Linked DNA regions of Homo sapiens. The protein of the gene in region 3 interacts with the protein of the main gene of each other region in a biochemical or structural test. Each region holds a gene or a part of one and is shown on either strand. Other genes may lie near its edges.

Evidence for each region.
Region 1: the proteins of BPTF (region 3) and NFE2L2 form a complex in vitro, tested with the Homo sapiens proteins (one study listed by BioGRID).
Region 2: the proteins of BPTF (region 3) and SMAD3 form a complex in vitro, tested with the Homo sapiens proteins (one study listed by BioGRID).
Region 4: the proteins of BPTF (region 3) and MAZ form a complex in vitro, tested with the Homo sapiens proteins (one study listed by BioGRID).

The regions. Positions count from the first base shown.
Region 1 is NC_000002.12:177,254,694-177,261,727, forward strand, and holds part of NFE2L2 (nuclear factor erythroid 2-related factor 2), read right to left. Parts: intron 1,318-7,034; exon of another isoform or gene 1,252-1,317; intron 1-1,251.
Region 2 is NC_000015.10:67,187,602-67,194,601, reverse strand, and holds part of SMAD3 (mothers against decapentaplegic homolog 3), read right to left. Parts: intron 4,190-7,000; coding exon 4,066-4,189; 3' UTR 1-4,065. UniProt on the Homo sapiens protein: Receptor-regulated SMAD (R-SMAD) that is an intracellular signal transducer and transcriptional modulator activated by TGF-beta (transforming growth factor) and activin type 1 receptor kinases.
Region 3 is NC_000017.11:67,905,495-67,912,528, reverse strand, and holds part of BPTF (nucleosome-remodeling factor subunit BPTF), read right to left. Parts: intron 2,948-7,034; coding exon 2,768-2,947; intron 1,653-2,767; coding exon 1-1,652. UniProt on the Homo sapiens protein: Regulatory subunit of the ATP-dependent NURF-1 and NURF-5 ISWI chromatin remodeling complexes, which form ordered nucleosome arrays on chromatin and facilitate access to DNA during DNA-templated processes such as DNA replication, transcription, and repair.
Region 4 is NC_000016.10:29,802,463-29,809,533, reverse strand, and holds the start of MAZ (myc-associated zinc finger protein), read right to left. Parts: upstream 3,006-7,071; 5' UTR 2,833-3,005; coding exon 2,641-2,832; intron 2,557-2,640; coding exon 1,706-2,556; intron 1,305-1,705; coding exon 1,241-1,304; intron 1,104-1,240; coding exon of another isoform or gene 1,005-1,103; exon of another isoform or gene 965-1,004; coding exon 793-964; exon of another isoform or gene 401-792; intron 1-400. Other genes in the region: kinesin-like protein KIF22, read right to left, coding at 4,224-4,271, 4,360-4,419, 4,508-4,720, 5,469-5,536, 5,926-6,085, 6,597-6,765. UniProt on the Homo sapiens protein: Transcriptional regulator, potentially with dual roles in transcription initiation and termination.

The DNA.
Region 1 (7,034 bases), on a different chromosome or scaffold from region 3:
GTCCCTCATTCTTTAGCAGCTGACAGAATGTCTGTAGGTCATTAGACAATGAAAAAAGAAAGAAGAGAGGGAAGGAGTAAAACAAGCAGAGAATAGGGATTATGGACAGTCAAAATCCCAGTTCTGCTACCTGCAAGCAGTGTTGTCCTGGCCAAATGGCTTAACCTCTTTGAAAATATTCATTACTTTTCCCTTTTCTTCCCCATAATCTTGCCAGTTCTGTCTGTATTCAGATGTCTCCTAACTCCAAAGTCTGGCTCTTTTCACACCATAGGAAGTGAGCTGGTAACATGAATGAAGATGAAAGACTAATTGTTTCCTCAGTCTCCATTACTGCACAATTTACAGCACAATTGTACTGTTATCAAGTGAACTTTGGAAACCTGTAGCACAGAGCAAGAGCCGCATACTCCCGGGGACCCAGACTTCCAAGAGTCCTGCAGAGGCAGAAGGGAGGGAGATGAATGAGCTTCTATCTAGGCGAGTCATGTCTACCCGCATCTCTCTGAGGAGGAAAGACTTTACTTCTCAGGATCAACGAGAAGAGATATGAGCTTCCCCCAACTTTTCTTAAGATACATTCCCCCTCCTTCCTGATCCTCCCACCAAGGGTGGCCCCTGGATCACAGTTTGGAAGTCACTGCCCTAAGGATTTCACCAAACAGGCAGTGTGGTAAAGAAGTTTCTAACAGAGGGTGAAGTGCTGTCTCTGGAGGATAAGATACAACCTGCACCCACAGGATGATTCTCATTCTTGGTTCTGGTCTCTGCTTGGGAACCAGCAGGAGAAGAACATGTGGGTTGGCGAGTGGGGGCACTGCAGCTGACACAAAGTAAACCAGCCCTGTTCCAGTCCACTAGGGTTGATTTTTCTTTTTTTCATTGAGACATGATCTTACTCTGTTGCCTGGGCTGGAGTACAGTGGCATGATTATGGCTCACTGCACCTTCAAACTCCTGGGCTCAAGCTATTCTTCCACCTTAGCCTCCCAAATAGCTACAATTGCAGGTGTGCACCACTGGATCCAGCTAATTTTTTTAATTTTTTGAGGAGACAGTGTCTCAATATGTTGCCCAGGCTCATCTCAAACTCCTGGTCTCTAGTGATCCTCCCACCTTGACTTCCCAAAGTGTTGGGATTACTGGTGTGAGCCACTGCACCTGGCCTACGGTTGTTTTTTCTATGTGTATTTTAATTATGTCTCATTGAGAATCATCAAGAATAAAAATAACTTGAAAAATTGGCAAGTTTTCCTATTGCAAGTAAAAAACTCTCATTTTTTAAGGAAAATGAGAGTTTTTTACTTGCCAGAGGAAGTCACTACCAGGAATTTTAATGGTTAAAAAAATTATTTTCTTTTTGCGAAATATTCATGGTTCTTCAACACTCTCTAGACACAACAGCAAGGCTCCCTGGCCCCAGTACTGCAAAACAAACCAAAAAAAAAGTACAGGTCCTTAGTCAGCCCTCAAACACCTCAAGAAGAGGTATATAATTCCATCATGCATCATACCTCTGTGCCTGTTACCTTCACAAAAGGCAACAAAGAACTATAGTCATTCTTCCCTCTATTCTAGTCCCTCAGGCAGGGAATAGGTTGGGTTTTACATCCATGTGCAGTATTATAATTTTATGCGGAAGCAGAGCAGACAAGAGATTGTCAGGTCTGAAATAAAGCAAAATTCTATATGCCTTAACAGTGGGCCCCCTAAATACACAGTCAATATTGTCCTCATATTAAGGTCATTTCTTTCACACAGACATTGAAGGTACTAATCTACTCTGAATGTCAGCTACATTCTTGCAAAAAAAAAAAAAAAAAAAAAGGAAAGGACATTGAATGAGAAAATGCAAGAAGTGTATGTTGCATAGAGCCTAAATCTTAACTGAAGTCCTTCTGTTTTGAGGTACTTGAATCACATTATGTACACCATTCAATACGAAACTCCTAAGTAAAATAACAGGATACCATTTTCAAAATCTTAAAGCAACAAACTACTGATGACTAGAATTAGAAAAGCATGCTTCCAGAAAGGTGACTAAATACACCCCCCCAACACAAAGGGGCAACGGTCAAAGACAAGACTGGAATTGGGCCTTGCGAGCTCTGCCTGGCAACCTTGGCTGTGGAGGCCACAGTGGACAGAGTTACCCACTCTCTTCTGGGCTTGTTCCCACCATCTGTGGGGTGGGTGTATAGGGCTGGGGCTAAGCCAGCTTCAGAAGCCCCCCAACCACCACCACACCATCAAGTCTCTCAAGTGGGACTGCTGTGCTGTGGCACGCACACCCACACACAAGTTGCCAACAGTTTGGAAGTTAGCCCCAGTTTCCAAATATGTCAACCCAAAAGCCATTCAGGTAAATATAAGTGGGAGCCACTACAAAGTGGGACTTTATCAGGCAGATACAGAGAACCAAAAAATGAAGTTGCTGAAAGCTGCTGTGGAGATTTAAGTCTTTTGTTTTTAACGGAGGAAGATAATGAGGCCCAGGAACACAGCTTCCTAGAGTAAGACAGTGTTCCGTCCTGGCCTCCAGGATGTTCAACACCTATCCCAAGCTTCTGAGCATTCTGTCCTCACTGGCTTCTCTCAGTGCTATTTCCAAATAATCTAGATTGCAAGTTATCACAGGCCACATTCCTGAAAAAACACAGAGCAATCCTGCTGACCCACTTCAGGGAAGCCCTTTCATAACAAAGTTACCCAAATCTTCTGGAGGGGTTTAATGAGCCCAGGTTATATATATTTAGTGAGTTTCAAACACTCGCCAGGCACTTTGAAACACAGTTCCTGAATGTAGGTGTTAACTGTAAGGCTGTGAAGGGCAATGATCAAAGACAAAAGCACTTGCTTTCATGATTTAAATAAGACATCCTAACCAGATTTTCTAAATCACTATATACTTCAATGGATACCAAGCACTGAGGTGGGTCCCCTAGGGCAGGGGTCCCCACCTGCTGGCTGCGGAGGGGTCAGTGGCCCATTAGGAACCAGGCCGCACAGCAGGAGGTGAGCAGTAGGCGAGCATTCCCGCCTGAGCTCCACCTCCTGTCAGATTAGCAGCAGCATTAGTTTATCAGAGAAGCCGGAACCCTGTTGTAAACTGAGTATGCAAGGGATGTAGGTTGCCAGCTCCTTAGGACAATCTAATGCCTGATGATCTGAGGTGGAACAGTTTCATCCTGAAACCATCCTCTACCTCCTTCTATGGAAAAACTGTCTTCCACAAAACTAGTCCCTGGTGCTAAAAAGGTTGTGGACTGCTGCCCTAGGGCACTGGCTCTCAAACCTGACTGCTCGTTAGAATCCCCTCAGAATCTTTAAAAAATAGTGATGCCTGGGCCCCACCCCCAGAGATTTTGATTTCATGAGGGATATGGCCTGGGCATTAGTTTTTTAAATACTGATGGTGAGTCTAATATACAACAGTTTGAGAACCACTGCTGTAAGAAACAAACAGAAACATAAAAAGTGGAAACAACTCAAATGATCATCAACTGGATAAATAAAATGTGGTATAGCCATACAATGGAATAGTATGCAGCCATAAAAAGGAATGACGCTATTGATATACGTTGCAACATTTTTAAACCTTGAAAACATATTGCTGTGAAAGAAGCCAGCAACAGAAGGATAAATACTGTATGATTCCATTTACATGCTATTCCATTTACATGATATGTCCAGAATAGGCAAATCCATAGGTACAGAAAATAACTGAGTAGTTACCAGGGGCCAGGAGAGTTGAGGGGAAATGGGAAGTGACTGCTAATGGATATGGGGTTTCTTTTGAGGGTGTTGAAAATTGATTACAGTGATGGTTGCATAACTCTATGAATAAACTACTAAATTCATAGGGTTGCATAACCCTGAATTAGATTAAATGGGTAAATTGTAAGGTACGTAAATTGTATCTTACTTTAAAATACATATATATCTATAAATTCTATCTACTATAGAGGAAAAAAAAACAGATACATAAGTAAGACAAGTATCAACAGAGATTTAAAATGCCATTAGAGAGGATCACCTAAGTAATACAGAAGGTAAACACTATAAACTCAGAGGAGGCATCAAAGCCTAAGTGATCCATATTTTTCTTTTCTTACTCATTTTTCTTCTCTGATTTGAAAAAGCAATAGAGTTCAGAGCTTGTCAGTGTACAGCTGATAATACAGGCCCTAAAGTCTCAGTTCTCACCTTATTTGGAATGGCTATTTAGCATTGTCTTAGAATTAAAAACAAATATTCAGAATACAGGCTGTTGATGGACTGTAATGACTCTCAAGAGTCAATTATCAACAGAGCCTTTGAAAGATGGACTTGGAGGTCAGGCGCAGTGGCTCACGCCTATAATCCCAGCACTTTCGGAGACCAAGGTGGGCACATCACCTGAGGTCGGGATCAGCCTGGCCAACATAGTGAAACTCCATCTCTACTAAAAATACAAAAATTAACCGGGCGTGGCGGCACACACTTGTAATCCCAGCTACTTGGGAGGCTGAGGCAGGAGAATCGCTTGAACTCGGGAGGTGGAGGGTGCAGTGAGCCCAGACTGTACCAATGCACTCCAGCCTGGGTGACCGACTGAGACTCTGTCTCAAAAAAAAAAGACGAACTTGGTGCTGTAAGTCCTACTTATGCCCTGGACTTGTCTTTACTAGTACCAGCAGTTTGGACCAAATAAACTTACATGCTCAAATACACAAAAAGACTTTTAAATACCAGGATTTGCAACACACAGGTATTATAGTACATATGCCGTAAAAACGAATGATTAAACGTGCCTCCCCTACTCAAAGTTCTTAATATACTTAATAATCATAGTTAAGAGTTATTTATTATGGCAGAAACTGACACACAGAAGGCTCAAACTTTAGGTAGCACAGGATTTTGTTTAACAGTCTTGTTTTCATGTCTAGGGTATAGTCTGGTACAAGAAATCCATCTAGGCCAGGCGCGGTGGCTTAAGCTTGTAATCCCAGCACTTTGGGAGGCTGAGGCAGGCGGATCATGAGGTCAGGAGATCGAGATCATCCTGGCTAACACAGTGAAACCCCATCTCTACTAAAAATACAAAAAATTAGCCAGGCGTGGTGGCGGGTGCCTGTAGTACCAGCTACTCGGGAGGCTGGGGCAGGAGAATGGCGTGAACCCGGGAGGTGGAGCTTGCAGTGAGCGGAGATCATGCCACTGCACTCCAGCCTGGGCGACAGAGCAAGACTGCGTCTCAAAAAAAAAAGCCATCTGTATTTCTCCAAGTTTCTGAATGTTAATATTTAATATTATACACTTGAACATATTTTTGCTTTCATTTACAGAAAACATACCATTAGCAATTGAATAAATCTTGGCCTATACCTTAAAGCCCTTTTAATAAATGTTTGTTGGCGCTTATTTAAAAGCAGGTAGCAGTGAAATTTCAATAGCTCCTAGAAATTAGATGATCAAAGAATAAACTCTATTCTCTATTTGTGGCAAACTTATAATGAATATACATTTCTACAGTCAGAGATGAAGACAAGCAGGTTAAAAATGACATCTAGTAAACTTGTCCTCCTCTACCCTGCTGTGCAACATATTTCAGTCAACTTTCAGAAAGTGGCTGGACCAAGCATTTAAATGCCCTGAGGTTGACCTGGACCAACTTTTAGGCAAATCATCCATCAGATCCTATAAGTCCTGCAGCACACTTAATTCAGACAAATAAGACAATAATTCCAAAAACAACTTAACAATAAGGACTAAGAAAGTGTTTAATTTTGAGATGTACTATTCTCAAAGACCCAAGTAAGCTTCAACTAGATAAGAGTTGAGCCCTTATGCTTGCTATAGTTCAGAAGTGCCAAAACATGAGATTAGGGTTGAATTTGCGCCATCAGCTTTCTGCTAGCTGTTTTCAACTCAAATTTTCCCCATTCTGCTCTCTTTCCTTCAGCCTGGTTTAACCCTGTCTGTCACACTCTTCACCATATTCTTACTACCAAACTTATTTTTGAGCACTACTTCAAAACAAAAAGAGCCAATGGAACAGAAGAAATGTACCAAGTAGCAAGGCAAACAAAGGCAAAGACTCCAGTAGCTAAGAGATTTAATTAAGAAAAAAGGCAGTTTCTGAAAAATGTGAGGCAGAATCTTGGACATTGCCAAACATCAGAAATTTTTAAAACTATTATTATATTAAGAAACAGACTGGCGCAGTGGCTCACACCTGTAATCCCAACACTTTGGGAGGCCGAGGCGGGTGGATCACCTGAGGTCAGGAGTTCGAGACCAGCCCAGCCTGGCCAACATGGTAAAACCCCATCTCTACTAAAAATACAAAAATTAGCCGGGCAGTGGGTGCCTATAATCCCAGCTACTCGGGAGGCTGAAGCAGGAGAATCACTTGAACCCGGGAAGTAGAGGCTGCAGTGAGCCAAGATCAGGCCACTGCATTCCAGCCTGGGCAACAGAACAAGACTTCATCTCAAAAAAAAAAAAAAACAAAAAACAAAAAACAGTCCTGCCTTTCTAAATTGAATCCACCGAGGCCTCTGTGTCTTCCTTAAAAGGACCACAGTGGGTACCATTGATGGATTGTATTCACTCTCCCTGTATTTAACAAGGTCCACCTCCCCACGTCACATACAGTGATTAAATGTCTTGCTAAATGGAAAAGCTGCAGACATTAATCTTTTATATTCCGGCCTCTCCTTCCCCCAGAATAGGCAAATCTCAACTTACCCACTTTTTAAAGTGTGAGCTTTTCTTCCTATTTAGAGTTTAAGGAGTTTTGGTACAGTCTGGAAGTGGTGATTAGAAGCCCCCAGGAGTCAAACCTGTTTGAATGCTACCTTGGCCACTCAATAGTATGGTCACCTTAGCAGGTCCTGGCCTTTCTCTATGCCTCTCTCCTAACCTTTCCTAACCTAATGCCTGATCTAACTATTATGCCTGGTTTTCCCAACCTGGAAACCAGGGATAATAATATTTCCCGTGAGGTTACTGTAAAATTATGCATGTGAAGCAATTATGTCTGGCACCCA
Region 2 (7,000 bases), on a different chromosome or scaffold from region 3:
AAAAAATTAAATAGTTATCTGTCTGAATGGTTTTAAGAAATTATTACATAAATATAAAAACACCAGAATACTAGAGTATACATTACTTCTGCATTAAAAAAAAATCCATTGCAGAATCACTGAGAATTTCTCAATCCAGTTTACATGAGGCAAGTTTCTTTTCTATGATAGCTGTGTTTTTGAAAAGTTGCCTGTTTAGCCCATCATCTCCCCACCATCACCTCCCCATGGGAGATGCTTCATCATCATTTTGGATCCATGTCCTCTTGCGTACGTTTTTCTGCTTTCCCTACCCACTTGAGAAGCGGCTGATGCTCCTTAAACTGTGATGAAAATACATTGTGAAGACGGTTACCTGAAAGGGGCCTACAAGGGAACATCTTTGCCACACAAAGACAGTACAGCTTCGCTGTGTTGAGGTTTGGTTCTGGTAAAATGGGGACACGTTTATTTTGGGGGAACTCCCAACTCTAGCCAAGTCACACAGTAAGAAACAGGGTCCAGGGCTAAACGGGTGCACTCTCTTGCTGCTGGTATCCCCCTTGGTGAACAGTCCTACAAGCAGCCTGCAGATTCTTCTCCCTACATCTCCTGTAAGGACGAAGGAGTGGTGTAACCTGAGCTCCGGCCCTGTGGAGACCCTCATGAGGCCTGAGGCTAAGAATGAAACAGATCTTTGCTTCTTCCCCAGATTACTTACATACGTGCATGCCATGCACACACTACTTCAAACCTTTCTGTAGTCTTGAGTAAAAGCATTTAGCCTGGAATATGTCCAAACTCTAGGAAGCCAAGGGGAGATGGAGAAAAATAAACAAACTAAGCACATGATATGTGCTATAGCTCACTTCAGTATATTAACGATGGTTTAAAAAAATAATCACCATGGTCAATAAAAAAAAAAAAATACAACACAGACAACATAAGGACAATGGAGACGTCTGCCAGCAGCCTTGCCCTCATGTGTGCTCTTCCTAAGAGTCAAAGTCCCTGCTCCTGACTCCTCTAGGCTTGTCTCAAAATGTCAGGTCTACAGCCTGCCAGGAAGGTGGCCAACTGAGATGATGTTCCAGCACAGGCCTGTAATCCAAACCGGCTGGGGTAGCTACCTACGTATGTGCTGGAAGCATCTAAGTTACTAAATTGGGAAGAAGCGAGGTGGGGAGGGGAGAGAGGAAAGGGAATAAAAGTTGGCTCCTTGGAAGGTGCTGAAGACAAGGATCTGTGTCCCAGTGCTAGCTGCACTTGGGTCAGTCTCAGCACAAGCTGCAAGGTGAAGATGTCATGGCGGGGAGCCCAGGGCAGGGGCAACACACGCGGTCGTGTTGACTAGGTGAACGCCACTTAAAACTGCTATCCAGTCACCAGCACTCCTCTAGAACTGCCCTGGTTTCCTCTTGCCCTTTTCAACTGTCCTTTAAAAAAGTGTTTTAATATACAAATGCCATTCATACAACAGGATTTTAAAACTAAGAAAACTAGCTTGTGGCTTCAAGGAAGGACACTAATGTTACATACGCCCAAAGCACCTATGTAGCACTCTAAGGTGGGAATGGCACCATTTCCTAACCTCTTAGGTATGATCAAATTTATTTTCAGTGATGCCACAGGTGGGTTTGCCTACAATCCCACACATCCTCCTCTGGTGGTCTAGTCAATAAAGAAAAAGGGCCAAGGAAGTATCCTTTGGAAAAACACAAAACTCAAACTTCATGCTCCTAGAAGTAGCCTTCAGGTCTGAGCAATGAGGGTTCTAAGACACCATCCAAATGCAGCCAAACGTGTCATTTCATCACATTCAAAGTTCATAACCTGCCAAAGTATAGGCTTTTTTTTTCCCCCTTCACCTGGAGTAAGACACGACTTCCATAGATCACTGGATCACCAGAATCAGGCTGTGCCTGAAGCTAGTTCCCAAGCACCCAGAGGGCTGTGTGCCACAGGAAGCCCTCATAGGATCGTGCAGCAGGTGGATCATGCAGGCCCTCGGAAACTGCTGCCCATGGCTTTTAGGAGAGGAACCATGACTGCTCTAGCAGAAGCCAAAATGGAATATTTGGTTCCTGGGTCTCAGAGCTGGCTGGGAACATGAACACATGTACAGGAGGTTCAGGGGGCTTCCTGTGTAAGAAACAGGCCATAGATCATTTCACACCAGGCACATACTTCAGACTCACAGCATTTGGCCCTCTCAGAGGAAGTGAGGGGTTTTGTATTGTCTCTGGGTTCTGAGTCAACCCTCCTTCGAGAAGACTCACACAAGTCTGTCAAGGTGCTCCTTCCGTCTCTTCCTGTGTCCTCAGGAGGCTTGGGGAGCAGCTGTCCTACCTGGAAACCTCATGGCTAGAACTTCAGAGGCACAGGACCCTGCAGATGAGGCATCAGGAAGCCTCTCCATCTCCCTCTAACATCAGAAATCTCATCACATTTGAGCTGTATGACTTGCCAAAAGTATATACACTTCCTTCCCTTCACCTGGAATAAAGCAGGACTTCCATAGGAAATCCCTTGATTTTTCCTGCTATAAATTCATGCAAAAACGTGGGATAGGTCATTTTATACAAAAACAGCAGCAAAGAATAAAGTACCAATTGAAGGTGGCAGTTCTGTCTACTGTGTTCTGCAAAAGGCTGGGAAAAGAAGAGGACTCTTTTTTCTTTTTTCCAGTTGAAATAATTTAGACTAGTTTTCTCCCTAATTGCTGCTGGGAGCAGTACTTGTTACACAATACAACTGCTATAGTTGTCACCGGTGATCCTCTACCGGGAGCTAGATCATCTTATATCCCAGGGGGAAGATGACAGACCTCTTTGTACCAAGCCTGCAATTTTCAAAGGTGTAAAAATATTTTAATAGCCCTTTTCATTTGCCTATGTTGGCCTGAGATGTTTCCCTTCTGGTGAATTTGCTTCTGTAAATTTCAGCTTGCAGAAGTGCTGGCAGGTATCTCTTCAACAAAACCTGGAAAAGCTTCACCTCAGGAGAGAGAAGGGAGAGAAGCAGTTGCTGGGTCTCACTCAGGTTTCCCAGTCAATGTGCCAGCCCAGGATTTTTAAAGAAAATATATAAACCAAACATTTAAAAGAGCATATGATAAAGTTGATTTAATGAATGCAACTGACTACATAAACCAATATAGCCGTATGCATCAGAATCTGGAGCAAGCTCTTACAGATGACTGGAGACGCACCCAGTGTGGTGCTGCCTGAGACCAAATGCCATCCCACGACAAGGGCCTCCTGCTTCATGAGAACACTTACCGTCATTCGAATCTCTTTGAGATTAATGTGATAATAGACACTATACATTGCATATGCACTGGGCCTCAGCAGATCCTTCCAACTTTTCAAAGTGAAAAAGGACAAACGTAAGTGAGTTTTTAAAGAGGTGGCGCTCATCGATTTTTCCCGCTGTCCTGTGTGCAGGTTCTGCTGAACACGCACCTCCCAATCAGTATGTTCTGAGAGGGGAGGGAGACAGACAAAACTCCCTCCCTCCCCATCCCAAGTCTATCCAGCTCACAAGGGGCAAGGTCTGCTGGAGTGGTGGGGCGGGGCGGGGCGGGGCTGGGCTGGGAATGTTCACTGGAAGAGGCACTGTCACAAGCGTCAGAGAGCTGGGCATGAGGTCTGCATGGCCCTGCGGGCTCTTCCTACCTAGAACGCCCTTCCAAGGTGAACTCCACACTGCAGTCCTAGACAGAGGGGTGTTTCTGGTTGGACTGTGACATCCCAGAAAGCTGTCACTCAAAAAAAGAGTCTGGGGGGAGGGGGCCGGTGGTGTAATACTACCTGTTCTGCTCACTTAAGCCACCAGAGCAGACGCCATTTCTTGCCCTTCAAAGTGGGGCCAAAGGGTAAATGTGTTTGGCAGACACAGCTGTTCATAACATCCACCTCTGGGTTTGCTCGTGTGTTTCAGAAAACAGGTGGGTGCACCCCTTCAGTTGAGGGAGAAAGATTTCTTCTTCCTTGACAACAATGGGTTGAGTAGAGTTCCAATTTTCTCCACCTCCTGCATGGCCATTTTCCCCAAGCCTGCCCTCCCCTACCATACTTGATGTCTCTAAGACACACTGGAACAGCGGATGCTTGGGGAGCCCATCTGGGTGAGGACCTTGTCAAGCCACTGCAAAGGCCCATTCAGGTGCAGCTCAATCCAGCAGGGGGTACTGGTCACAGTCTGTCTCCTGTAAGAAATAGGGAAAGGGGTGGGGTGGGGGACTTAAAAAATCTCCAGGGGGTTACACAAGTCAGAAAGCTTTTTCTGCTTTGGTGACAGTCATCTTCCCAAAGATGCTGTTAGACGCTGTCCTAGAAGCGGTACCAGTAACTTGCTGAAACTACCCGGCCAAACTCCTCTACCCAGGGAGGACTTTGAGTAAATTAAGTTCTCTTGAGGGGGAAGGAAGTCGACTTTAAAGAGTTAAACATGTAAAGTCAATGGCAAAGAGTTAAATATGTAAAGTCAATTGCAGGGTACCCCAGAGGCCCACCAGTTACTGTAACAGGCCCCCTAATAGAGGAGACCTCCATCCTGAGCAAAGGGCTTCCTGGCTCCCATCTGTACCAAACGGGCACGTGCCGCTCCCCTATCTCGAAATCTGGGCCCAGCCCCAGCAGGCGACGATGACGTGTGTCTGTCTGATTGAGGGGTGTTTTTTACAAAGCGCCAACAGTGTCCGCATGCCTTCGGTTCCCAATGTGCTGATATAATTCTCATCTACGGCCTTATTTTGGAAAATCTTACAAGCAGAACGAGCCATGGAACAATTACTGGAAAAAAACAAGGCACACCACACGTTTCTTTTCCCCAAAGCACTTTGTCTAAATTCAGGCTGGTTGATGACGCAGCTTGCAGGCAGGCTCCCAAAGGCCTCCACTGAGCAAAGGCTATCTGCTGAGGCTGGAGTCGCTGGTGCCAGCTGGAGGTGAGAGGTGTGGGCCCTGGGCCCTGCTTTCAGCCACCTCACAGAGAGAAGAGCTGAAACCTTACTCTCCTTGGCCCAAGAGGCAGGAGGACGACAAGGCTGTTCTGGGAAGGGGCCGCGCCCGCCCGTCAGGCTGCTGTGCAGTGCTGCCAGGCAGCGGTGACGCGGTGGGCCACAGAGGACTGGGTGTGCTGGCAGGACATCCCGCGTGGTGATAGTGTCCCCAGGGAAAGGCTCTGCCACCAAAGAGCCTCTTCCTAGCACTTGGAGCGGGAGAGCTGCAATGCCACACCAGGAACAGTGTTGCTGTCTTGAAGGCACCACCCTCCTTGCTTGGCCTCTACTTTGCTTGTGTAGCAGGGAGGTTGAGAAATGGGCCTGCAGACAGACCCTGGGGTGTCTGCACGAGCGAGGGTACCTGAGTGTGGCCCTCCAGACTACAGTCTGGTATAAGAAGAGCAAATGGACATCCCCTTACTCTTTTCCACTGCAGTCCATCTTTAAATATTTCCCTTCTTCACTAAAAAAAGATTAATTTTCTAACCTTTCACTCCTGTTCCCTAAATGAGCTAAGCCAGGGCTAAAAGATTGCTTAAAACATTTCTCTGGCTAGACCTTTGGGCCTGGGCTGATCTCTTCAGGCCATAACATAGTTGTAAGTTCTTTTGAGGTCTGACCACTTTGATTGCTCCACTGGTCACTCCTGGATTTCAGAGACACCCAAGAAACCAAGGGGCTGTGTTCCCTGACACCCTGGGGCAGACACAGAAGAACAGCAGCTAAAATACGGTAAGTGGAAGAGGAGGATTTTACAGGATGAAATCCTCTAATGAGAATCTGACTTTCCATAAGTCATGCTCATCTGGATTTCATTACAAACGGTGGCCCAAGGCCAATATTGAAATGGGTTTGGCCTGAGTGCAGCATGACTGCAAAACAAAATGGATTCCAAACATCTGGAAAAATGAAGAGAAAGGGAGAGTAGCTTGCAAGGCGCTGGCTCTAGCTGACATGTGGGCACCTCTGCATCTGCCGCAGGAGCTGGCGGCTGGCAGGGGGGAGTGTGGAGCAGAAGGCGGGGGCACACAGCCCTGCCTCTCCGCAAACTTTGGTCCGTGAGTGGAAAGAAAAGGGACTGGATTCTCTAAACCCAAAGCAGGATGGCCTGAGAGATTCAACCAAGCAGACCAGGTAGACCTGACTATATCAGGGCCATGTTTAAACCAGTATCTAGGGCCGGGCATGGTGGTTCACGCCTGTAATCCCAGCACTTTGGGAGGCTGAGGCAGGTGGGTCACCTGAGCTCAGGAGTTCGAGACCACCCTGGGCAACATGGTGAAACCCCCTCTCTACTAAAATACAAAAAATTAGCCAGGCGTGGTAGCACGCACCTGTAGTCCCAGCTACTTGGGAGGCTGAGGCACGTCCTGGAGGCAGAGATTGCAGTAAGCCAAGATGGTGCCACTCACTTCAGCTTGGATGACAGAGTGAGACTCCATCTCAAAAAAAAAAAAAAAAAAAAAGAAAAAGAAAAAGAAACCAGTATGTAGGACTCTAAAAAAGTCATTTCTCAGCGAGAAAATTTTGTTCCTTTATAACTACCCAAATCTCCTCCTCCCTTCCCGGACTCTCAGTTTTAATATCCTGGGCTCCTCAGCATCACCAGGGTCCCTGAGTCAGAAATGGAGCAACAGAGGAGGAGAGGAACAATGAGCTGAAGACCTAACTTCCTGAAGAGGGTCATCCTAAAGCCATCTGCCTAAAATGAGACTAAGGAAGAAGCCAAGAGGGCAGAGTTCTAGACACAGCTCTTCTACCAGTGTGACTGCAGGCAAGTCACTCTCCCTCCCTGGGCCTTAGTTCTCTCATCTGTACGGATGATGCTGGCATCCCCACCCAGGGCTGGGATGAGGATAAGATGGAGCGTGTGTTTACAGTGCCTACAGCTGTTCGGTGCCAGCAAACATCGTTCTGCAATTCCTCATCATCTGCTGTTGGCCCGGCCCCTCCTGCCTGCCAGGCCTTGGCCTCTCTCTGATCTTTGGTCTTTCTGCTCTTGACGCTAGGGCT
Region 3 (7,034 bases):
AGGTGATGAAGTAACTTTCTTAACTTCTGAGGTTTCTATTTCCATATCTTCTACCTGATTAACTGAATTGCTTTCTGGACAAGATGCTGAGGGTGTGGTCGTCTGTGTACTGTCAGACTCTTTGGTTGATGGCAGGGTCTCAAGGCTATCTCGGTAGTTACCTTCAGCATCTGAAGAACTCAGCAAATGCGATTTTGTTTCGGAGCTGTTTCTTTCATTAAAATCTTCCATGATGACATCACCATTAATGAATGGCCTTATAGCAGATTCTTTAACAGTCAATGATTTAATATCATTCTCAGGGATTATTTTATTTATATTATTAACCTTTGGTTCAACATTACCACTTACTACTCTACTCTCAGAAATTTCTTTCAAGCATTCACCTTTCAAATATATTTTGGGTTTATTATCTTTTCCATTTATTTGAAATGTACTTGTTCTCTGTCCTTTCTTTTCAGACTCTCGATTTTCATTATTCTTTTTGTCAGTGGTATTTTTTAGCTTTATTTGATCACTACATTTATTAACTGGTCTCTCCTCTAATTTCTTCTGCTGACTTGGTTTTTTACCATTTGCTTCAGTCCCCTTGACCGGCAGCCTGTCCTCACAGTTTCCAGTGGACTCACCAGAAACCAACTCACACTTTAACGGCTCCAAGACTTCAACATCTTGTTCTCGAGTTCTGAACTGTTCAGAAATGCTTTCATTGCTATTCTGAACAATCATATCTTCTTCACTGCTATCCTGAATAGACACGGTATCAGAACTATTTTCCAAAGTGCTATTAGATTCAGAGTCACATCCCAGTTTTCCTTCAAAGTCCATTGCTCTTGACAGAGGTGTGGCATCTCTGTCATTGGTACTTTTAGGCACTGATGAATGTAAAGCACTCTTGGAAGAAGAAACAATGGTGTCACTTTCCTCCTGTATGAGCGGTTTTTTGTTCTTACAGATCAAAGTACCAATATCATCTGCACTGGCTAGTTTAGAGTCATCGATGAAAAAATCATTTCCTTTTGTTTTACTCTTACTGGGTTCCTGGCCTCTACTGGCAAGGTCAGAGACTTTTTCTTCTATGTCATTTTCAATGGAATTTTGTTTCGGACATTTTGTTTCTGGGCTCCGAATGGAGACATCATCTAACACTCGATCTTTTGGATAAAGTTTGTTTGTGGTATGACTAGGATCACTCATTCTAAGAACTGAGGAATCACTTTCTGAACATCCCTGAATCAAGTCCTCAGGTTGATCATTATTTGCATTTGGGCTCTGTTCTTGTCTCATCGAGTCACTCTGACACCCTTCTTTTGCTTTCGTTATTACTGGTGATTCAGAGAGATTTTTTGAAGAATTTGTAGAAGTCTTTCCTATACCCTTAATTCCACCCTCCAACTTGATTTTTTCGAGTCGCTGTTTTTCTTCCAGTGTAAACTGTTTAATTCTCCTTTCAAGAAGTCCATCTAGTTTGGATGATTTTGTTTTCTTTTTGTAACTAGTCCTTAGATGAAAACCCTCACTAACATTGACCACATCTACTTGAGAACTCTCCTGACAATTTACATGTGACTCTGTTTTCATGTCATCGTCTACTTCCATTGGTTCTTCCTTGCAGGGTTTATCACTGTCAGAATCTAAGAGCTCCTTCACATCTGTGAAACAAAGACATTTATATAAATGTAATTTTTACTCTGAAAGGAGGAATTTATATATATATATTTTTTTTTTTGAGATGGAGTCTCACTCTGTTGCCCAGGCTGGAGTGCAGTGGCATGATCTCAGTTCACTGCAACCTCCGCCTCCTGGGTTCAAGCAATTCTCATGCTTCAGCCTCCCAAGTAGCTGGGATTATAGGCATGTGCCACCATGCCTGGCTTATTTTTGAATTTTCAGTAGAGACAGGGTTTCGCAATGTTGGCCAGGCTGGTCTTGAACTCCTGACTTCAGGTGATCCGCCCACCTCAGCCTCCCAAAGTGCTGAGATTACAGGCATGAGCCACCACGCCCAGCCAAAAATATTTTTTTAAAGTATCTCTAGCCACATGCATTATCTAGCTTATCTAGTTTTTTTTTAAAAATGACTTGTTACAAAAGACAATGTAGTTCCTCAAAAGGTTAAACAGAGTTACCATATGATCCAGTAATTCCATTCCTAGGTATATCGCCAAGAGAAGTGAAAACGCATGGCCACAAAAAACTTCTGCATGAATGTTCATAGCAGCATTATTCGTATAGCCAAAAGAGGAAACAGCCCAATGTCCATCAACTGATGAATGGATAACAAAATGTGGCATATCCATACAGAGTATTATTCAGAAACAAAAAGAAAGTACTGATAAATGCTACAACATGGATGAACCTTAAAACCATGCTAAGTGGATGAAGCCAGCCACAAAGGACCACATATTGTCTGATTCCATTTCTATGGACTGTCCAAAATAGGCAAATCCAGAGAGACAGAAAGTAGACCACTAAGCTGGTGGCACTTTCGGGAGGGGTTGGGAAGTAACTGCTAATGGGTATGAATGAGGCTTCTTTTCAAGGTTATGAAAATGTTCTAAGATTGATGTAATAATGGTTGAACTTTGTGAATATACTAAAAGCCACTGAATTTACACTTTAATTGGGTGAATTGTATGGGATATCAATTATGTTTTGATAAAGCTGTTATCAAGAAAACACAACGCAGTACCTTTCCTGTGGTGGGACCCTGATCCAGTGCATTCTTATCACCCCCAGGCTGCCCTCCACAGCTGACTCTCCTTACCTTGGTCCTTCTTCTCAGTAATCTTTGAGATATCCATTTCATTTTGGTCTGCTCCTTTTGCAGCATCTGAACCTTTTACCTCATCTTTTTCAGAATCAGGCTCTATTTTTATTTTTTTTGGACTTCGTGAACATTTTCTTTTATCTGACTCATCCATATTTTCATCCATATTATTTTTGGCTAAAAAGAACCATGTAACGATAATTTACGTTATTTCCAGAGTATTAGCACTTTAATATGTCAAGTTTAGTGAAAATAAACAAGTAATTTCCAGCAAGTTATGTTTCATTTTTTCATTTAAAAAAAAAAAAAAGACAAAGGTCTTATTGAGTATAAGGTACCATATAATCCTATATGCCTGGCTGACCTAAAACACAGAAGGAATGCCTGAACTTCAGACATTTCAGAAAACTTTGTGAACATTTTTGGTGAAATATGATTTAGGAAATTTGTTTTAAAACACTGCAGGATAAAAAAAAAAAGGGGGGGGGGGACCTGGTGCGGTGGCTCATGCCACTGCACTCCAGCCTGGGTGACAGAGTGAGGCTCTGTGTCCAAAAATTAAAAAAAAAACAAAAAACTGTGATTCAGTAACATAGTCAGCTACAAGATAAACATTAATACTATAGGCTGGTGCGGTGGCTCATGCCTGTAATCCCAGCACTTTGAGGGGCCGAGGTGGGTGCATCACCTGAGGTCAGGAGTTTGAGACCAGCCTGGCTAACATGGTGAAACCCGATCTCTACTAAAAATACAAAAATTATCTGGGTGTGGTGGTGCACACCTGTGATCTCAGCTACTCAGGAGGCTGAGGCAGGAGAATTGCTTGAACCCAGGAGGCGGAGGTCGCAGTGAGCTGAGGTCACGCCACTGCACTCCAGCCTGGGCGACAGAGTGAGACTCCGTGTCAACAAAAAAAAAAAAAAAAAAAAAAATTGTCAGTGACAACTGAAACAAGAGTGATAAAATTTGGATGGGTGTAGTGGCTTATGCCTGTAATCCCAGCACTTTGGGATGCCAAGGTGGGCGGATCACTTGAGGACAAGGAGTTCAAGACCAGCCTAGCCAACATGGTGAAACCCCGCCTCTATTAAAAATACAAAAATTAGCCAGGCATGGTGGCGTGCAACTGTGATCCCTACTCAGGAGGCTGAGGCAGGAGAATCGCTGGAACCTGGGAGTTGGAGGCTGCAGTGAACTGAGATCGTACCACTGCACTCCAGCCTGGGTGACAGAGTGAGACTCCATCTCAAAAAAAAAAAAAAAAAAAGTGGTCAGTGACAACTGAAACAAATGTGATAAAATTTGGGTGAGTGTGGTGGCTCATGCCTGTAATCCCAGCACTTTGGGAGGCTGAGGCAGGCAGATCACTTGAGGCCAGGAGTTCAACACCAGCCCAACAAGGTGAAACCCCATCTCTACTAAAAATACAAAAATTAGCCAGTCATGGTGGTACGAGCCTGTAGTCCCAGCTACTTGGGAGACTGAAGCAGGAGAATTGCTTCAACCTGGGAGGCAGAGTTTGCAGCGAGCTGAGATGGTGCCACTGCACTCCAGCCTGGCTGACAGAGCAAGACTCTGTCACACACATAAAAAAATAAAATGAAAGAAAACTCGTGTATGAAGGATTATCACAATCTATTTGATCATTCCAGAAAGCCCATATCAGTGGTTTCTAACATACTTTGTGTCACAGAACCCTATTAGAAATGGATAAATGCTATGATCCTCTACCAAGGAAAAAAGTATGTATATAAACTTTTGTAATCTATTTCAATGGTTCTTGGACTCCTTGAAGTTTATATAACAGAATAAAAGACTGAAAAAAAGGATCAAAGGCAATCTGTGGCCTTGTTTACTGCTTACAGTAAAAAGGTATCTCTAAGACAACCAGGGCAAGTGGAATATGGACTGAGAATCAGATTATTAATTTGTTAATTACGGTTAATTTGTTGAGTGTGATAATGACATGATGGTTATGGAAAAATGTCTACGTAGAGATACATATTGAACTTCTGGTGAAACATGATTTCTGGGATTTATTTTAAAACACTGCAGGATTAAAAAAAGTGGTCAGTGACAACTAAACAAAGAGTGATAAAATTTGGCTGGGAGCAGTGACTCACACCTGTAATCCCAGCACTTTGGGAGGCCGAGGCAGGCAGATCACTTGAAGTCAGGAGTTCGAGATCAGCCTGGCCAACATGGCAAAACCCCGTCTCTATTAAAAATACAAAAATTAGCTCGGCGTGGTGGCGGGTACTTGTAATCCCAGCTATTTGGGAGGCTGAGGCAAGAGAATTGATTGAACCCGGGAGGTGGAGGTTGCAGTGAGCTGAGACCATGCCACTGCACTCTAGCCTGGGTGACAGAGCAAAACTCCATCTCAAAAAAAAAAAAAAAGTGATAAACTTTGATAATTGTTGAAGCTGAATGAGTTCATTATTCTCTTTGTATTTGTGTAGTTTTAAATTTCCCATAATAATTACAAAAAAAAAAAAAAAATCAAGCCTCCCAAAACAGAACTACTGTCTAGATGAATATTCTTGGGACTTAAAGGTTTTTTTTTTTTTTTTGGAGACAGTGTCTTGCTCTGTCACCCAGGCTGGAGCACAGTGGGTTCATCTCAGCTCACTGCAGCCTTGAACTCCTGGGCTCAAACGATCCTCCCTCATCAGCCTCCTGAGTAACTGGGAATACAGGTGTGTACCAATATGTCTGGCTAATTTTTGCATTTTTTGTAGAGATGGGGATTTGCCATGTTGCCCAGGCTGTTTCTTGAACTCCTGGGCTCAACTGATCCTCCCCTGCCTTGGCATCCCATCACAGGTGTGAGCCATGGCACCTGGACTTAAAGGCATTTTCCTATTCTTTACCTTCTTCACTTGAACCTAAATATCCCAAGGACCTAGCAAGGTATATCCATTTTTTATTTAAATGAATGATTTCTTCCAGAAAGGTCTGGCTGAAGGGAAGAGAGTGCAAAGAAATCATAATTCTGTCGCGAGCAAGATACTGGTGTGAGAAAATAGATATAAAAAATATATCTATTTTTAATTTAAATGAATGATTTCTTCCAGAAAGGTCTGGCTGAAGAAAGAGAAGAGAGTGCAAAGAAACCGTAATCCTGTCAAGAGCAGGATAGTGGTGAGGTAAGAGAAGAATCACAGAAAAGGGCTTGGGACCTGCCAGCGTTCTATCACTCTGTGCATATGTGGTCTTCACTATGTCACCTGGCACCCTCGTGAAATAATCGGCTCATTGAACTTGAGTTTAAAAACACATGATCTTTTAAAAGAGCAGTTCATCTCTATAGAGTTCGGTGATTCTAAATACTAAAGCTCATTAGCCAGTTGTAAAAACTCAATTAATAGCTTATTTATAGGCCAGGCGCAGTGGTCACACCTGTAATCCCAGCACTTTGGGAGGCCGAGGCGGGCAGATCACAAAGTCAAGAGATTGAGACCACCCTGGCCAACATAGTGAAACCCTGTCTCTATAAAAAATACAAAAATTAGCTGGGCATGGTGGTGTGCACTTTTAGTCCCAGCTACTCGGGAGGCTGAGGCAGGAGAACTGCTTGAACCCAGGAGGCGGAGGTTGCAGTGAGGCCAGATACGCCACTGCACTCCAGCCTGGTGACAGAGCAAGACTCCATTTCAAAAAAACAAAAACAACCCCTCCCCCCAAAAAAAACCTCATTATTTTTTTAAATTATACTTTAGTTCTAGGGTACGTGCGCACAACGTGCAGGTTTGTGACATATGTATACATGTGCCATGTTGGTGTGCTGCACCCATTAACTCTACATTTACATTAGGTATATCTCCTAATGCTATCCCCCAACCTCCCCCAACCCCACGACAGGCCCCGGTGTGTGATGTTCCCCATCCTGTGTCCAAATGTTCTCACTGAAAAACCTCATTTATGTGACAGTGTTTTGGAAGCCTCTATCACTTTCTTTCTGGTTTTCTCTTACTTGCAACAATGCTAAGGTTACTAGATACATGACTCCTCAGTGAATTAGTACTGAATTAAGATTTTTTTTTTTAAGAGATTGAGTCTGGTTCTGTCATCCAGGCTCGAGTGCAACAGCACAATTATAGCTTACTGCAGCCTCAAACTCCTGGCCTCAAGCAATCCTCCTGCCTCAGACCCCCAAGTAGCTGGGACCACAGCCATGTGGCACTACACCTGGCTAATTTTTAAAACGTTTTTGTAGAGATGGGGTCTTGCTATGTTGCCCAGGCTGGCCTTGAACTCCTGG
Region 4 (7,071 bases), on a different chromosome or scaffold from region 3:
GGGGGTGGATTGGGATGGGGCGGGGGTCAGCCAGGCGGAGACCCCAGAGACGGGGCTGATCTCCTAGGCGGGGGATGCCCTCCTCAGATGGCCCTGTCCTCCTCCCACGGTATCCTTGGTAGCCTGGGGCCAACTGCTCTGTTGGGGCTGGTAGACACAGCCCCTCCCTGAGCCTGGGGCCTGGCTTGTGTGGTGCCCGCTTCTCAGCCTTGGTACCTACAGAACTCATTCTCCATGGCCGGGAGACCTCTCCCAGGATGACGAGACACTGACTCCTAGCCACTTGCAGGGTTGACCCTCAGCAGAGACGGCTGTGTCCCCTTCCCTCCAGTGCCCCGCGGTCTCAACCCAGTTAACCGGTGAGTCTGACTGAAGGCAGCTTTCTCTGCTACCCGTGCAGGGTGCGTGCTGGTAAAGCCCGGCCCGTGTACTCCACCTGCCCCAGGAGCTGGAGACAAGACCTTGTGGCTGCGCAGCGGAAACCTTGCCTTGTGACCCCTGGAACTGGCTTTCTTGACTACTCCTTCCCCAGAGCAGCCAAGTTCCACTCCCGCTTTCCCCACACATTACCAGGAGGTTCAACCTCTCTGGCAGATCATCTCTTCCAACCAGGACTTCTTAGAGTCTAATGATGTTCATTCAGGTGTCCCCCCGCTGCTCCCTTGACCTCTTGTAGGAATCTAGACGCCACGAGCTCTTGGCTACAGCACCCTTAACCCGTATCCGTGGCAAGGCGTCTGGCCAGGCGCCCACCCTCTGCCCCTGGCCCTCCCGGCAGCCCTCGGCATGTACCTTTGTTGCAGAGCTCACAGACATGGTGAGGACCCTGGCTGTGCACCTTCATGTGGTCCGAAATATAAGCCGAGCTCAGCATCTTGCCACACACGTGACATGGCACTTTCTCCTCGTGTCGTACTGTGTGCGCCCGCAGCCGATCCTTCGTGGCGAAAGCTGCCTCACATTTCTGAGGAGGGGGGAGGGGCGTGGGGGGTGTCACAGGAGAGTTAAAGCTTGGTGGGCTGGGGAGGGGGGAGCAAGAGATTAAAGGAATCAGAGCCTTGGGGATCTTTGATCTGTAGGAAATGGGAGTGACATGATGAGGCCTTGAAGAAGGGATGAGAAAATGGAGCAAAAAGGCAAAAAGAAGAGAGAGAAAAAGGGGGTCTGAGAGACTGACTCAGACAGCTACCATGAGGATCAAAATCATGAAAACCAAGACAGGAGGAGGCGGGCTTCCTACCTCACATTTGAAGGGCCGTTCTGTTGAGTGCACTTGTCTGACGTGACTGTTGAGGTGATCCGGCCTGGGGACACGTTGGGGTTGGGGTTAGGGCGGAGGTGGTGCGCCCCAAATCCACCAAACCGCACCACAGGCCTTTCCGAGGATCCCTGCGCCTCCTCCCGGAGCCCAGGCCGTCACAGCGACACTTAAGCAGGAAATCCCTCCCCTGGAGCCCAGCAGCCGCTGCCGCCGCCGCCGCCTCCTCCCACGCGAAGCTTCCGTCAACCCCAAGGCCCACCTCCTCGACAAAGGACCACCCCTTGCTCCCTGGTAACCGGGAGAGGCTTCCTCCCTCCGCCCTGGGAGTGGCTCCCCTTCCCCAGCCTCAGCAGCCGCCTCCCTCCCCGCCAGCCACGGCCAGGCCACCTCCGTCGCGTCCCTCCCTCCCCACGGCCTAGCGGGCGGCCGAGGCCCCGTGCACACCGGGAGAAGCTCTTGCCACAGTGGGAGCAGTTGTAGGGCTTGTGCACAGCGCCGTCATGTGAGCGCACGTGGTAGCTCATGCGGTCCTTGCGCTTGAAGCGCTGCTGGCACACCGGGCACTGGTAGGGCTTCTCGTCCGAGTGCGACAGCTTGTGTCGGTTCAGGTGGTAGACGTCGCGGAAGGCCTTGCCACACATCTCGCAGGCATGGTTCTTCCGGATGCGCTTCCCCGAGGCGGTCGTGGTCACCACGCCACCGGCGGCCACTGCGGCAGCGCCGCCGCCGGCACCCGCCTCTCCCCCTCCCCCGCCGGCTCCGCTCAGCTGGGGCACGCTCAGGAGGCTCAGGGGCACCATGGTCGGCATCTTCATAGCACCCGAGGGGACCCGGCCGGCCTTGGCTCCCGTGTGGATGGCTTCGTGCCTCCGGAGATTGTAGCCGTTCTTGAACTCCTTGGCGCACAGAGCGCAGATGTAGGGCCCCTTGCTCTTTGTCTTCTTCTCCAAGGCAGACGCGACCGGGGCCACGGCGACCGTCGAGGTTGGGGCTACGACGGCGGTGGCCGCCGCCGCGGCGATAGTGGCGGCGGAGGCGGGGGGCGCGGCCTCGGCCGCGGGCGCCGACACTGGCGGGGGTGGCGGAGGGGGCGCCGGAGGCTGCTTCAGGGCCGCTGTGTCCACCGTAGAGGCGGCGGCAGGGGCCGGGGGCGCGGCAGCGACGGCGGCAGCAGCGGCGGCAGCGGCCGCAGCAGCCGCGGCGGACTCCTGGGCGGCGGCGAGCACCGGGAGCAAGTCCACCTGGAGGGGCTCGGCCGCCGGGGCCTGGGGCGTGGGCGGGGGCGCCGGCGCGGCCTGCGGAGACAAGGCGCCGAGTGGGCCGCGGGTGCGGGCGGGCGTCCCCCCCCAGCCCGGGCCGCCGCGGCCGGCCCTACTCACCTGGAATGGACTCTGGGCGCAGCCCTGGGAGGCAAAGAAGCGGGACTGGAGCTCAGCCCCGACCTGCAGGGGGTTCTGGGCGTGACCCTGAGGTGGCGGGAAGGAGTTCATGAGGCCGCCCACCCCCCGGGAGTCCAGGCCCAGCACGGGGAAGGGGGGGGCCAGCAGCGTGCAAGGAAACACCGGGAACATGGCCTCGGCCGCAGCGGGGCCCCCGGGGCTCAGCGGGGGCCGGGGGCGCGGGCCGCGCGGGGCCCGGGCTCGGGGCGCCGCCCCCGGCCGGCCGGGCTGGGCCGCGCCGAACGCATGGCCCGCGGGCCGCCCCGCCGCCCGCGCACCCCGGCCGGCGGGAGGGAGGAAAAGAGGGCGCCTTGCGGGCCGCGGAGCGCCGCGGCGACGGCGGCGGCGACGCCCCCTGGGTGGGGGCGGGAGGCCCCGCGGGGCCGGGGCCGGGGGCGGGGGCCCGGGCGGCGGCGGCGGCGGCGGCGGCGGTTGGAGCCTGGCGGGGCGGGGTGGGGGGAGCGAGGGAGCAGCCTCGGCCCCCGCCGCGCGCGCGCCCAGCCGGCGCCTCGGGGAGGGCGGGGGAGGGCGCGAGGGAGGGAGGGGGACAGCTGCGCGCGCACCGGGCGCGCGGAGGGGGGGTGGGACGGGAGGGAGGGCGGGCAGGAGGGGGTGTGGGCAGGGGGGTGGGGGCGGGGGGAGGGAGTTGTTACCTGGAAGATGAAGCTGCTCCAGTTGCTGGGATCCATGGCGGAGGGAGGGAGGGAGGTGGCTCGCGCTCACCCTGGGGCGGGAGGAGGAGGCGGCGGCGGTGGGGGAGGGGGAACCCGGGAGGAGGCGCGCGGGGCGGGCAGGAGGGGGGAGGTGGAGGGTGGGGGAAGCGGAGCACACTACGCGCGGGGAGGGCGGGCGGGGGGCGCGAGGACACACAAGAGGCTGGAGCGGGCGCGAGCGCTAGCGCGAGCGCGCGCGTGGCCAGCGGGAGGGGCAGGCGCGAGAGGGACTCTGGCGGGAGGAGGGACGGGGGAGCCACCCAGCAGCCCGAGTCGCCCCGAGCGCGAGACCCCTGAGACGGCTGCTGATTGGCTGACGATGGCGCAGGTGGTGGGCGCGCGGGAGACAGGGCGGCTTCTCTCCTCTTCCCCCCGCCAACGATTCCACTCCCCCTCCCTCCGCCAGCGGCCGTTATTTCGCGCGCACGCGCACAAGGCCGCCGTCGTTGCCGAGCGGGAGAATGGGGGAGCGCGCGCGCCGGGGGCACGGACGGGGCGGGGCTAATCCCTGAGCGCGCGCCCGCCTAACGGTCGCAGGCCTCATGCTTCGGCTTCCGCTTTTTGCGTCCTGCAGGCCACCGTCCTCCCCGCCCCACCCCAGCGGTGTATTTACAATCCTGCGCTGAGTCGTTCCCCGAAGATGGCGCCCAGTGGAGTCGCCTGCCTTGCTCGCGGCCCACCCCGAGGCGGTCACACCCCGGTCCCGCCCCCGCAGCCCCAAAAATCAGGCGGAAGCACCGGAGCAAAAACTGTATTTACACAACACGGGGTTATACAAAAATTTGAAAAGGCGGAGTGAGGAGACGACGGTCAGGAGGCGCCACAGCGCTGGCCGGCGGCGAGACCCAGGATGTTTGCCTGCAACACAGGAGGGAGGGAGACAGCGACGTTAGAGAGGGGCGCGGGGCGCAGGACAGGCAGAGGAGGGGCAGGGCCGTGACTTCACCTTCAGGAAGGACTCCATCTGTTTCCCCGTTATGCCCTCCACGCGTTCCAGGTCCTCCACCTGGCGGGACAGGATCGATAGGGGACAGGGTCTCGGGGGTACCCGGTCTCCCCCGCCCCCGCCCTCCCCCAGTCCAGTGGGCTGCTACCTGGCTGAAGGGGCCGTGGAGCTCCCGCCAGCCCACGATTAGCTGGGCCTTCTTCGGGCCAATGCGCTGAAGACTGCGGAGATCTCGGGCTGAGCCTTCGTTCAGCAGATCCAGTATTTTTTGGCGCCCATGAGCCAGTAGCTCCGGGCTGATCTGTAGCTCCCAGCAGTCCTCAGCCTTCTCCTCAGGCTCTAGGGCATCCAGGGACTCCAGCTGGGAGGCAAAGGGAGATGAGTGACACGCAGGGCAGCCAAGTGCTTTGGGCTCCTCTGCCAAGACTAGGAGCCCAGCACCAGCTACCTCCTGCGCTCCAGCCTCTTCCTCTCTTGTCAAGTGTGTCCAAAATCCCGCCCTCAGGTCACTCTCTGGGTTAATTCTTATTATGCAACTAGTGAAAGAGAGGTACTACTCAGTACCCAGTGGTAATATTAGCACCCTTCTCATGGAGTTGCTGTGGAGATCAAGTGAGTTAATGAATGTAAAGCACAAAATAAGCTCTTAAATCTGGTCCCTCATCTCTAAAAGGGAAAGAATAAGCTGTCTTTCAAAAAGTACATGGGAGAAAGTAATATGAATAAATGATACCTCCCCCAACCATCTCAGTTTTTGGGTAGTTCTAGTGGTGTTCGATTCTGGGTATGTGCATATGTGTGGTTTCTTGCTTGACTGCTTAGGTCATAGTTCCCTAAGTTTTCCCTCTTAAGCTTGTAGAGGGTAGAAGCCAGGCTACACAGTGGAACATCCGCTCTGCGAGGTACATCCACATCACTGCCTTCCACCCTAAATGCCCTGCAAGGAACCATCCATCACCACATTCCAGGGGTAAGCAAGTTGAGGTCTGTTAGTAGCTGGCGGCCATCATCCAGTTCGTTTAACCCCAAGGCCAACGCTCCTCCCCCTAGAGCCTACTCCCCCTTACTTCTGGGCTCCAGGTGTAGCCTAAGCCCCCAGCTACTTTCACCTTTCTCTTCCGGCCTTTATTCTTCAGGATGTGGATCTCGGCATTTGGGGATGCTGCCTGCTCCTGAACTGAAAGTAGGAATCGAGAATTGGAGTCAGGGCAAAGGGTACTTTTCACCCTCCCTGGTAGCCCTTCGATTCTTCCATTTCTGATTCCCCAGCTCCCCTCCATCCAGAGTTAACCTGTTGTGTTTCCACATGACCTTTTTTATACCCGCATTTAAAGGAATTTCAGTCAGTCTTGCATTATCTTCAATCCTCTACTCGTTTGTCCATCCCACTGTCCTAAACACCCGAGGGCAGAGCACCCCCAGCACTGCCTCAGAGCCTCCTCACCCCTCCCTGGGACTGGTATGTGGTGGGAGAATATGAATGACATGGAGACAGCTGCTCCTAACACTTCCTCCCTTATAGGATCTCAGCTGCCTTGGCCCCCCAGCCCCTGGAGTCAAACTTACTTAGCTGTAGGGGCATCACCACAGCCTTTTTCAGGGGCTTTGCCCCTGTGACTGTGCGATGTGAAAGGGGCCGGAGCATTGTGGGACAATGGTTCTCCTTTTCCTCAGCCTTCTGGGCCAACATCTTGGCCTCCAGTTCTTTTTGCTTCGTCTTAAGCCTCTGTTGGAAAGGATCAGGGAGATGTGATCCAGACCCAACTCCAGGGCAGCCTGAAGGGAGTGGGTTACCAGGGTGAGTATGCAAGGCTCTGAGCCCCCAGAGGGCAGGGCTAGGACCAGTGGGAGGTTACCAGGAGACAGGTGGAGCCTAACATAATTAAGGGCTTTCTGTGATTAGGGGGCTACCCAGAGGTGGAACAAGCCTCTGCAAATATTGAAGGGAAAGGCTTTTCAAGCACAGTCCTCAATTAATTGAGCTGGGCTTTAGGAAATGTAATGTTTAACATTTGTTGCTTTTACTTTGAACTTTTTCTTCTCACCCTCACATCTGGTCTCAATTGTCTGTCAAAGTTCAGCCATGTTAAGGACATTCAAGCAGAAGCTGGAGAACTTCCGGTATTGGGAGAAAACTGGACTCTAGTCCAGCCTGAGTGTCCTTCCCTGTCTGAAGATCCAAGGATTGCTTCTCAAGGCCAATAGGAATCCAGCTCCCACATCCCTAAAACACGTACCTCAATCTCTAGGTCCTTCTCTTCCACTGTCTTCATTAGCACCATCCGCTCTCGCTTTGGGGTACTCAACAGAGGGGCCCCCTGGCTCCCCTGGGAGGCAAGCAGACGGTCCAAGCTGAGGAGGCGCTCCAGCATGGCCGGGTCCATGCTGCTTAGCTTCTGTAGGGGGCTGAGCAGAAAAAGAAGTTGCTCCCCACCTACCTCCTCCCTCATCACCACCTACAGCAGCAGGACTCCCCTCACCACACCTTAACTTGGTATATCCTGTAGCTCCAGAACCTAATGTTAACTTGCTAGGCATCCAGTTTCTCTGGGTGCAGTGTCTTCATCAGGTGAAGTGACTGCTCGGGGATGCCAGGAAATCAGGCGAACACTTGAGTGCCAGGTATGAGAGACCTAAGACACTGCCCTGCCCTGGAGGCACTGTCTACTGAGGAAATCAAGAGACCATAATAAGGTGACAGCCAGGACAGTG